Homo sapiens: one gene and its partners. The protein of the gene in region 1 interacts with the protein of each later gene in a pairwise test. Each region holds a gene or a part of one and is shown in the gene's direction. Other genes may lie near its edges. The genes, in order: BEX2, TRIM74 and KRT27.

Region 1 (3,600 bases):
GAAGTTCTTTATATATGCTCTGAATTCAAAACCATTGTCAGATACAAATACTGTGAATATTTACTCCCAGCTTCTCACTTCATTTTCTTAACCATGTGTTTTAAATGGTAGAAGTTTTTAATTTGGATAAATCCAATTTCTTATTTTTTTCTTTTGTGATCTGTTCTTTTTGTGTCCTAAGGAATTGTTTTCTCAAAGATTGTAAAGTTTTTCTGTATGTTTTATTCTAGAAGTTTTCTAATTTGAGCTTTTACATTTAGGCCTAGGATCCATTTTGAATTAATTTGTGTATAGTATAAATAAAAGGCAAGGCTCCTTTTTTTCCTTTAAGAATTCTGTTATTTCAGCACCATTAGTTTAAAAGACTATACTTTCCATATAGAATTACTTTGATATCTTTGTCAAAAACTAATTAACAACATACGTATGGGTCTATTTCTGGAGTCTATTCTGTTCTATTGATCTACAGGTCTATGTTTACTACTACACTAACTTTATTATTACACCTTAAGTCTTGAAATAATATAATGTAACTCTCAAGATTTGTAGGATATTTTAAAAAAATTATTTGTCTATTCTAGGTCCTTTGCATTTTCAAATAAATTTATGAGTACGTTTGTAATATTTATCTTGTAGCTGCAACCTTCTTAAAATCAATTCTTACTCCTATAGTAGGTTTACCGTAGATGTCTCTGGATTTCCTAAATACATGATTACTTGATCTTTAAATAAAGACATACTTATCGTTTGAACCAGAAATTTGTGAAAAAGGCCTTTTTTTTCCTTTTAGTTATGAAAACCCAACAAGGTTCTGTAGCACTACAACTCACTAGCTCATTTCATAGAAGGGCCTCATGTGTCCAGGGGCCCCTCAAAAGGGGAGCCATCAGCTGCCCTGTCCTTTTCCAAGTTCTAAAAAAGCAGCTGCGTGTAGAGTCTATATTTATATAATGACTTAACAGGACAGGTGGTTGGGACATTTTGCCCAACTTTAATCCCGTCTTTCAAGTAAAAATAACTTTTTTTCCTTTTTAAAGAAGTATATTAATTTTTTGTGTTTTACAAAAGAAATAATACAGAAAAGGTATTAAGAATGAGAAAAGCCTACTCTCTTGTGCTCCTTTCCTGATACACCTCTTCCACTCATTTTAGTGGAGAGAAAACGGAGAATATTGGTAGGAGGACAGAAGGAGGTAGACAGGCAGAAGGAGGTGAATCCTGGGAGCCAAGGGCAGAGAGAGGCAAGTCCCCAGAGAAGTGGGAATGGCCAACAGCTCCCTGAGAAGATACCTTCCGTCCTTCCTGGGCAAGCAGGGGAAGTCTCAAGAATATACAGAGAAGGAAGAGTGGCAGAGCCCAGGCTGGGGATGTTAAAAGGGACTCCCGGTGAGGATGGGGGCGGGCCCGAAAGCACCACCTGACTCCGGGCTGCAGGAGGGGGCGTGGGACGGGGGCGGAGCCTCTGGCGATGACAACAGCCACACGTGATCGGCCAACACTGAGTCTTACCTCGTTGTGGCGTCAGAACCGCCGTCGCTCGCTCCCTTCTCGGCAGTGGTACCTGTTCCCGGTGTCCCTGAGGACGTGCGGGCCAGGTACGGCCCCGAAAGTAGGAAGCGGAGGGGGAGCAGGTAAGGGACCCGGAGGGGGTCCCTGGGGTTGGTGTGGGGGAGCAGCCCCGGCCTGCGGATGCCCCATCCCCGGGCAGCAGCGCGGAGACGCAGCCGGTCCACGATGCAGCCCCGGGGCCCCGCCGCGGGACCGCGAGCCTTGTGTGAGCGGAGGGGTGCCCGGCCCCGCGGGAGCCGGCGATCCTGAGGCTACGACCTTTCGGAAGCACCTGCCTCCGTCACCAGCGCAAGCTTTTCCAACACCCCTGCTCCGCCCTTCTTGATGCAGAAAATGGTGGTCAGCTTGGGGGGCTGGGCGGCTGAGGCGGGGGGCGAGAGCGGCTAGGAGGGCCCGGGCCCGGCGTGGGGAAGGGGCCGGGTGGCGGCGGGTCCTCTCTAGCGTTCCGCTGCAGCAGCCCCCACTCTTCCCACCCCGGCCGTCTGCAGGTTTGCGGGGCCAAGTGTTGCGGCGACGCACCTCACGTCGAGAATCGGGAGGAGGAGACTGCAAGGATAGGCCCAGGTCAGTGCGAGGGACGGTGGTGGGGAGGGGGTCAGAACATGAGGAAAGCCCAGTCTGAGACCCCAATCCGTGCCTTCACCCCCACACTTAGCAATCCCCCACCCCCACCCCTTCTTCGTCCTCCATTTTGGTGCCTGCAGAGGCCTGGAGATGGATCTGCAGAGAAGATGGTGGGCTTTGCGGGAGAGAAGGGCACAGACTGGCTCCCCTCGCCCCCCCGAGGGTACATGGGGCCTCTCTGGTGGAAAAAAAATGAAATTTAAAAAAGGCCTTTGAAATCCAGGGCTCTGAATTTTGAAAGGTGGGTAGTCGGGCCTCTGTCCTCGGTGCTGATCAGTTCACCAAGAATTGAGTCCATTTTCTCTCTGTCTCCTAGGAGTAATGGAGTCCAAAGAGGAACGAGCGTTAAACAATCTCATCGTGGAAAATGTCAACCAGGAAAATGATGAAAAAGATGAAAAGGAGCAAGTTGCTAATAAAGGGGAGCCCTTGGCCCTACCTTTGAATGTTAGTGAATACTGTGTGCCTAGAGGAAACCGTAGGCGGTTCCGCGTTAGGCAGCCCATCCTGCAGTATAGATGGGACATAATGCATAGGCTTGGAGAGCCACAGGCAAGGATGAGAGAGGAGAATATGGAAAGGATTGGGGAGGAGGTGAGACAGCTGATGGAAAAGCTGAGGGAAAAGCAGTTGAGTCATAGTTTGCGGGCAGTCAGCACTGATCCCCCTCACCATGACCATCACGATGAGTTTTGCCTTATGCCCTGAATCCTGATGGTTTCCCTGAAGTTAATAGGGAGACCCCTGCTTCCTAAACTTACACATTTGTGGTGTACCTTTGTCGTAAACGTTTTGATGTTACCTATTTCTTGTGGGTCTCCTATTACCAGCTTCTAAATGAATGTTGTTTTTGACCCAGTTTGTAAGTTTCTGTCAGCAGGAGAGTTTTACCTATTGCATGGAAAGATGCTCATTATATATTGTGAAGTTAATAAAACAGTTTTAAAAAGCATTCTCTGCATTCTTTTTTACTTTAAATCTTAAACATGCACCTAAACAGTCATATATATATATATATATATATATATATATATATATATATATACACACACACACATATATATAGTAAATAGTGTTTATCTCTGTGGTAGAATTAAGAGGGAGTTTATTCTTGCTTACCCATAATTTCTTATTTTTCAAAATGGAACACGTATTACTGATAAAAAGCAATGTGACCACCTTATAAAAGCGATGTGAGCACTTACTAAACACTTGTGACAGAATCTCAATTTTAGCTTGCCTCTGGGTTCTCTTTTTAGAAATGTAAGAGACACATCTCTTTGAAGATAATAATATTTATCAGTAAGATGAAGACAATCACCTCCCAGGCTTGTTGTATGGACCAGATAAGGTAATGAGGTTGTGAGCTTTCTCCCAAGTTCTTGTTCTTACTGACATGCATGACCC
Region 2 (3,827 bases), on another chromosome or scaffold:
AGGTCCTTAAGGGTGGAGATGTTCTAATCTTCTGAGTACAACCTCTCTTTTCACCATGTATTGTGGGAAGTAAGCATTCGTCGATTTTTACTTAATAAATGAACAAAGAAACATTCCCAGTGGTGAGTTAAGTCAGAGTGCAAAGATTATACCTTGCCCATTAAGCCATCTCCCAAATGCCTAGGTCTCAAGGGGAGAGAACATGGCTGTTTTACCAAAACCCAGCCTCAGCAAAGTCAATTCAAAGAACCTGCGCTCTGAGCAGTCTTCCCAGCCTGAGGCATGGTGCCTCATCTCGCTCCTAAACAATCCCTTCTTCTCCAGCTCCTACTCTGAATTTACCCTCTCCAAGTTTCATTAGCCGAGGAGTTTTCCTAAAGTAATTAGAATCGAAGGGTCTGTCCAAGTGTTCCAGGTATCCATACTATTTCACTAGAATAGAGGAAAGAATGTAAGGAAAATGGACCCAAAACACCCACGCCTCCATAATATCGAGTCTCTCATGATCACACAGAAACAATGCGATCAGATGAGCTTAAGCTGCCCGACACCACGAGGTACAGGAATAAATCTCTCTGCATTTTAGGAGCCTGCCCTTCGGCTCAGAGGTTCAAGAGCTTCATGGAAGCATCACGCAAAGGGGACATAGGGGTCCTTAGCTTTCCTCTTAAAAAAACTAATTCATGGCAGAAGCAGCGGCTCACGCTTGTAATCCCAGCTACTGGGGAGGCTGAGGTGGGAGGATCACTTGGGACCAGGAGTCTGAGACCAGCCTGGGCAACATAGAAAGTGCCCCATCTCTACAAAAATATTAAAAATTAGCCGGGCATGGTGGATTGCGCCTGTAAATCTCTTATTTGGGAGGCTGAGGCTGGAGAATCACTTGAGCCCAGGAAGCAGAGGCTGCAGTGAGCTATGTTCGCACCACTGCACTCCAGCCTGGGGAACTGAGCGAGACCCCGTTTCAAAAACAAAAATCCACTTCAAACAAAGCATTTCCAACCCCATTAAATGCTTTTTGAAAATGAGGCCTCTCTCTTCCCAACAGAGTGCGATGACATGGATCCTGCGGACAAACCGCCCCAGGGCGTACCTAGCACCGAAGCATCAGGCGCCACTAGGTCTCCAGCTCCTTCTCGGATGACGTCCTTCAGCACGCCCCGGTCCCCCGAGATGTCCAGCATCCTCTGACTTAACCGCTCGTACAGGGACTGATGGAGAATGAAAGCCAGGCCTCAGAGCCGCAGACCCACCCGGCCACCCCTCAGCGTCTACGCCCCCACGTCTGGGCCCTCACCTGGCCGGGGGCGTCGTCCCCTTCCAGGACTCCCTGGTTTAACGCGCTTCCCCCCATGTCCTAGCTGCCCTCCCTGTGGCGTGAGCCTTCGGCCTGGTGCGCCCCGCTGCCCTTCCTGGCTGTGACTCTGGTGGGGTTCCGAAGGCCCCTTTATGCCCGGCAGACCCCTACCGACGGCGGCATTCCATTCTGGGGCCACGAGGAGGCACTCATCGTTTCGTTCCAACCGCCGCCAACGGCCCTGGCCCTCGCGAGCTCTGGAACTACAGAGGTCGCACGGTGAGTTGCCAGGTGTGGCCCGTAATCGGAGCGCACAAAACATGATGGGACACGTAACGGGACCACACAGGGCACATTGGGCACTTGCAGGGGCGCGAGGTGGCGGCACGTAATGGGAGCGCGCTGAGCATGATGGGGCATGTGCGGGAGCGCCAGGCGGGGCATGTAACCAGAGCGTGCGGGGCATGATGGGGCACGGACATGGGGGGTTAGGTGGGGCACGTAATTGGAGCTCGCGGGGCAGGATGGGGCATCTAACTGGAGCGACAGAGAGCACGATGGGGCACTTACAGGGGCCGGAGGCTGGGTACGTAATGAGAGCGAGCGGGAAATGATGGGGCACCTAACGAGCACGCAGAGCATGATGGGGCACGGGTGCGAGGTGGGGCGCACAGTGGGAGCGCGTGGGGCATGATGGGACACATGGCGAGGCCGTCAGGGCACAGGGGAAGCACTTTTGGAACACGTGAGTGACAGGGCTGCCGCCCTTGAAGGAGCCCTCGGAGTGGCTGCGTGGTGGGGCACGTGGGGCAGGTTCAGGAAAAAGGATGCAGCATGTGATTGCAGGGCAACCTGGTGAGGACACGAGAGCCACCTGCCACCAGCAGGGTTCAGGGCTCCCAGCTGTGGGTTACTTCCACCTTCTTTCACTTTCCCTCTTCCATTGTATTCTAGAGAATTTAGGCCCAGACAAGACACTGATTGATTGATTGATTGATCGATTGACAGAGGCTCGCTCTGAGCCCAGGCTGGAGTTCAGTGATGGATCTCAGCTCACTGCAGCCGCCACCTCCTGGGCTCAAGAGATCCTCCTGCCTCGGCCTCCCAAGTAGCTGGGATTACAGACGTGCACCACCAGGCCCAGCTAATTTATTTTTTAGTTTTTAATTTGCTGGTAAGATGGTTTGTAGCTTTGTTGCCTAGGCTGGTCTTGAACTCCTGGCTTCAAGCGATCCTCCAGTCTTGACCTCCCAAAGTGCTGGGATTATAGGCGTAGGCTACAGCCAACTTTCAATACTGCCCCATTGGGGGTTACGTTTCCAACACATGAAATTAGGAGGATACATTCAAACCACAGCAGTATATTATGACCATAATATTCATTAACTGTGTAACAGGCTGGGCGCGGTGGCTCACACCTGTAATCCCAGCACTTTGGGAGACCAGAGTGGGTAGATCACTCGAGGTCAGGAGTTTGAGACCAGCCTGGCCCACATGATGAAACCGCCTCTCTACTAAAAATACAAAAAATTAGCCGGTGTGGTGGCAGGCGCCTGTAACCTCAGCTACTTGGGAGGCTGAGGCAGGAGAATCACTTGAATCCGGGAGGTGGAGGTGGCAGTGAGCCTGATTGCACCACTGCACTCCAGCCTGGGCAACAAGAGCAAAACTCTGTCTCAATAAACAAACAAACAAACAAAACCTGTATAACAGAGTGTCATTGAATTTCTAAACGTTGAAAGACTTCACATTAAAAAAAAACTCACAATTTAATATTATTGAGTGAAAGAAACCAGACACAAAAGGGTACATTCTATATGATGCTGTTTATGTGACATTCAAAAACAGGCCACATGACAACATGGTAATAAGGACAGTGGCTGTCCTTGTTAGGAGTTATGACTGGAAGGAGGCAGGAGGGAGCTTTCTGGAAACACTGTACATCTTGCTCTTGAGAGTGCACGTATATACATCAAGTGTTTATCAAGCTGTGTGGTTAAGATTTGCACACTTGTATATGTTATACCTCGATTTAAAAAATCTAAATAAGTAAATAAAGATACCTTCAAATCTTTAAAAAAAAAAAAAAAAAGAGGCCAGGTTCGGCGGCTCACACCTGTAATCCCAGCACTTTGGGAGGCTGAGGTAGGAGGATTGCTTGAGGCCAGGAGTTCAAAACCAGCCCAGGCAACAAAGTGAGACCCCTGTCTCTACTAAAGTAAATAAAACAATAAAATAAAAAAAAAAATTCGAGAGATCGAACCATCATCTGCCAGTTTGTATTAGAAAAAAAGAGAGAGAGAAGGAAGACTGCGTGCAATAAGGCTCATGCCTGTAATCCCAGCACTTTGGGAGGCCAAGGTGGGAGGATTGCTTGAGCCCAGAAGTTGAAGACCAGCCTGGGCAACAAAGCAAGACCCGGTATCTACAAAAAAAATTTTAAAAATTAGCTTGGCATGGTGGCACGTGCCTGTAGTCCCAGCTACTCAGGCAGCTAAGGTAGGAGGATGGCTTGAGCCTAGGAGTTGGA
Region 3 (3,827 bases), on another chromosome or scaffold:
ATAATACTTTAATAATGTATTAAATTGATTGACAAATCTTTCTGGCTTTTTTTCCGCAAGCTCATTTATTAAGTCATGAAAATTTATATTTTTGCCAACTTCATTTTCAATCTAGGTAATTGAAAGTGATGTCAATCATTCTTGGCAAATGCAAGATCTCAAATGATTTGTTATAATTTTTAGTCTGAAGAAGAAAACCAGGTGGAAAGAATAACATGAACAAAGGCAAAGAGATGGGAAAGAGGGAAGTAGTAAAACAGAACGGACAAGTCAGTGCGGGAAAATTTACATTAAGACAGTGAGGTGGCTCCTGCCTATAATCCCAGCACTTTGGGAGGCCAAGGTGGGAGGATCTGTCGAGCCCAGGCATTCAAGACCAGCCTGGACAACATGGCAAACCCCAACTCTACAAAAAAATACACAGATTAGCCAGGCATAGTGGCGTGTGCCTGTAGTCCCAGATATTTGGTAGGCTGAGGTGGGAGGATCACTTGAGCCTGGGAGGTTGAGGCTGCAGTGAGCTGTGATCATGTCACTGCACTCTGGCCTGGGTGACAAAACGAGACCCTGTCAAAAAAAAAAAAAAAAGAGAGAGAGTCGTAAATACCAAGCACAAAACTATAAGAAATGACAAAGGTAGGGCACAGGAGCTATAAGTGGAAGAGAAAAGGGGAGCAACATGAGATGTAGAAAATTTCTTAGAAAGCAACTGTCTGAAACTCGATCAGACTCATCAGACTGAGGTTGTCAGTATTGAATGTAACCAAGAGGGTATAGGGGAAAAAATAAAAGAAATGATGATTAGAGATGTGCAGTGATGTCTGAGAGGTTAATTTCAGTAAAATAGTGGGACCACAATTCAGAAATAAGAGGTGAAAAGTACAAGAAGCAATGCAGAAAAGTGCTATGGAAATGGACAGCCAATAGAAGGAATGCAGAAATATGAGCAATCTACAGACAGAAAGTGAATATAGAGACCACAGTCTAGACCCTTCACTTTACAGATGTGGAAACTGAGGCCCGAGGAGGTGACCAATTCCTTTACTTAACCTGGTTAGCAATGGAACTTAGACAGAAAACCAGTACAGATGAAATGGTAATTCAGGAAGGATAAGGATCAAAGGAACACTTTCTGTCTCCAAAGAAGATTCCCTTTAATGCCTCAGTTTTCCTTTAGGACCTCCCCTCCTTCTTCTGATACTATGATACTTCATTGCTGAAGAAAATGCAATGCTGATTTGAGCAAGGGAAAGAGAAATCTGTCTATCATACTTTTTTATTCTTATAGGTATTATGCATTCCTGAAGCCTGGAAGACAGGAAGAGTTACTCATACTAAATTTGAAATGCATCACTATAATAATCCTGATAATACTCCACCCTGTCCAACTCCAGAGATAACAAATAACCCCACAATAACTATCCACCTACAGAAATGGACACAGTATGGTAAAGCCATTCATTAAAAAAAAAAAAAAATCACCCCATTATGGATAATTCACAATGAGCTGGCAAACATCATTTGGCTATGAGCAAAGCTCATCAAGAAACACCCTAATAATGTGTATATAAAGGCAAACCAAGCTGTTTGAGTAGGCCGTTCACCATCAGAGCATCACCGCAGAAACAAAGGCTCCAGCCTCCGGACACCATGTCTGTGCGCTTTTCTTCTACCTCCAGGAGACTTGGCTCTTGCGGGGGCACTGGCTCTGTGAGGCTCTCTAGTGGGGGAGCAGGCTTTGGGGCTGGAAACACATGCGGTGTGCCAGGCATTGGAAGTGGCTTCTCTTGTGCTTTTGGGGGCAGCTCATCTGCAGGAGGCTATGGCGGAGGTCTGGGCGGGGGAAGTGCTTCCTGTGCTGCCTTCACAGGGAATGAGCACGGCCTCCTCTCTGGCAATGAGAAGGTGACCATGCAGAACCTCAACGACCGCTTGGCCTCCTACCTGGAGAATGTTCGAGCCCTAGAGGAGGCCAACGCTGACTTGGAGCAGAAGATCAAGGGGTGGTATGAGAAATTTGGACCTGGTTCTTGCCGTGGCCTTGATCATGATTACAGCAGATATTTCCCAATTATTGACGAACTTAAGAACCAGGTAAGAAACGCCATGGCGTGAGTGTTAGCACTCCTGAGAGTGTTTAGCCACTCACAGATGCACAAATGTATAAGCTATCACAATAACAGGGCTTTGCCCTCAGCTTCTAAATTTTAGGAGTTCATTTTCAATATTAAAAATAATTTCTAATAAATTCTAATATTTGAACATGGCACGTCCATCATGTAGTATTAGGTATATGCTTTTGGTAATATTAAAATATCAAAAGCTGTCCAGTGTCTCCAGTTATATATTTATAGGCTTTCCCATAGAAAGAGCTTTTTTTAATGCTTGGGGTGGGAAATACAAGAGACCATACCCAGCCAGGCACAGTGGTTCAGCCTGTAATCCCAGCACTTTGGGAGGCCAAGGCAGGTGGATCACTTGAGATTAGGGGTTCAAGACCAGCCTGGCCAACATGGTGAAACCCTGTTTCTACTAAAACTACAAAAGTTAGCCGAGCGTGGTGGCACATGCCTGTAATCCCAGCTACTTGGGAGGCTGAGGCAGGAGAATCACTTGAATCTGGGAGGTGGAGGTTGCAGTGAGCCAAGATCGTGCCACTGCACTCCAGCCTGGGCAACAGAGCGAGACTCGGTCTCAAAATAAAAGACAGAGAGAGAGACCATACTTAAATTACCCATCTTCAAAAGAATGGTCTGATTATTAGAGACAGATGCCAGAAATATTACTATAATTTCATGGGTAATTTTATTTCAAGGAACTTTGAAATGCATCTTAAATATTTCCTCAATCTTAACTAACTTTTCATTTGTCAGATAATTTCTGCAACTACCAGTAATGCCCATGTTGTCCTGCAAAATGATAATGCAAGACTAACAGCTGATGACTTCAGACTAAAGTAAGTAGAGCTGAAGATAAATGGGAAAAAAAAGTTGTCTAAGCATTTTTTCTCCTTTATTCTTCTAAGTTATTTGACGTTGTCTCAAGCCTTTGTTCTTGTTTATTCATGTATTTGTTTTAAACAAAATGCCTGTTAGAATGAGTAACTAGCTGAGCAACAAATTTTACTTGGGAAATTTCGGGACTAACAAAAACGAGTGTCAAAGTCATATGAGAAAGAATTTTGGCTATTCCCATTCTCTTGCTTCAATGAAATGTATTTATTGCATGATAGATGACCTAACTGAAATGTGTTTTTTTAATTAATTAATTTATTTATTTATTTATTTATTTTTTGGAGACGGAGTCTCGCTCTGTCGCCCAGGCTGGAGTGCAGTGGCGCAATCTCGGCTCACTGCAAGCTCCGCCTCCTAGGTTCACGCCATTCTCCCGCCTCAGCCTCCCGAGTAGCTGGGACTACAGGCGCCCACCACTGCGCCCGGCTAATTTTTTGTATTTTTTAATAGAGACGGGGTTTCACCGTGATCTCGATCTCCTGACCTCGTGATCCGCCCGCCTCTGCCTCCCAAAGTGCTGGGATTACAGGCGTGAGCCACCGCGCCCGGCCTGAAGTTTTAAGTATTATCTTAGTAGTTTTACCTCAAAGCTTAGTCTGAGTTGTATGATGATCTAAAAAGTGATGTGCCATGTCTAATGACTAATGATGAAACTTCCAAATACTTTTCTAAGGTTTGAAAACGAGCTAGCGCTTCACCAGAGCGTGGAGGCGGACATCAATGGTTTGCGAAGAGTCCTGGATGAGCTGACCTTGTGCAGAACGGACCTGGAGATCCAGCTGGAAACTCTCAGTGAGGAGCTCGCTTACCTCA

What was found.
Region 2: the proteins of BEX2 (region 1) and TRIM74 interact in binary tests that used the Homo sapiens proteins (3 or more experiments, as listed by UniProt).
Region 3: the proteins of BEX2 (region 1) and KRT27 interact in binary tests that used the Homo sapiens proteins (3 or more experiments, as listed by UniProt).

Annotation. Positions count from the first base shown.
Region 1 is NC_000023.11:103,308,891-103,312,490, reverse strand, and holds BEX2 (protein BEX2), read left to right. Parts: upstream 1-1,500; 5' UTR 1,501-1,631; exon of another isoform or gene 1,632-1,893; coding exon of another isoform or gene 1,894-1,908; intron 1,909-2,057; coding exon of another isoform or gene 2,058-2,133; intron 2,134-2,509; coding exon of another isoform or gene 2,510-2,514; coding exon 2,515-2,901; 3' UTR 2,902-3,145; downstream 3,146-3,600. UniProt on the Homo sapiens protein: Regulator of mitochondrial apoptosis and G1 cell cycle in breast cancer.
Region 2 is NC_000007.14:72,967,341-72,971,167, reverse strand, and holds the start of TRIM74 (tripartite motif-containing protein 74), read left to right. Parts: upstream 1-1,701; 5' UTR 1,702-1,883; intron 1,884-3,827.
Region 3 is NC_000017.11:40,780,317-40,784,143, reverse strand, and holds the start of KRT27 (keratin, type I cytoskeletal 27), read left to right. Parts: upstream 1-1,593; 5' UTR 1,594-1,650; coding exon 1,651-2,094; intron 2,095-2,873; coding exon 2,874-2,956; intron 2,957-3,687; coding exon 3,688-3,827.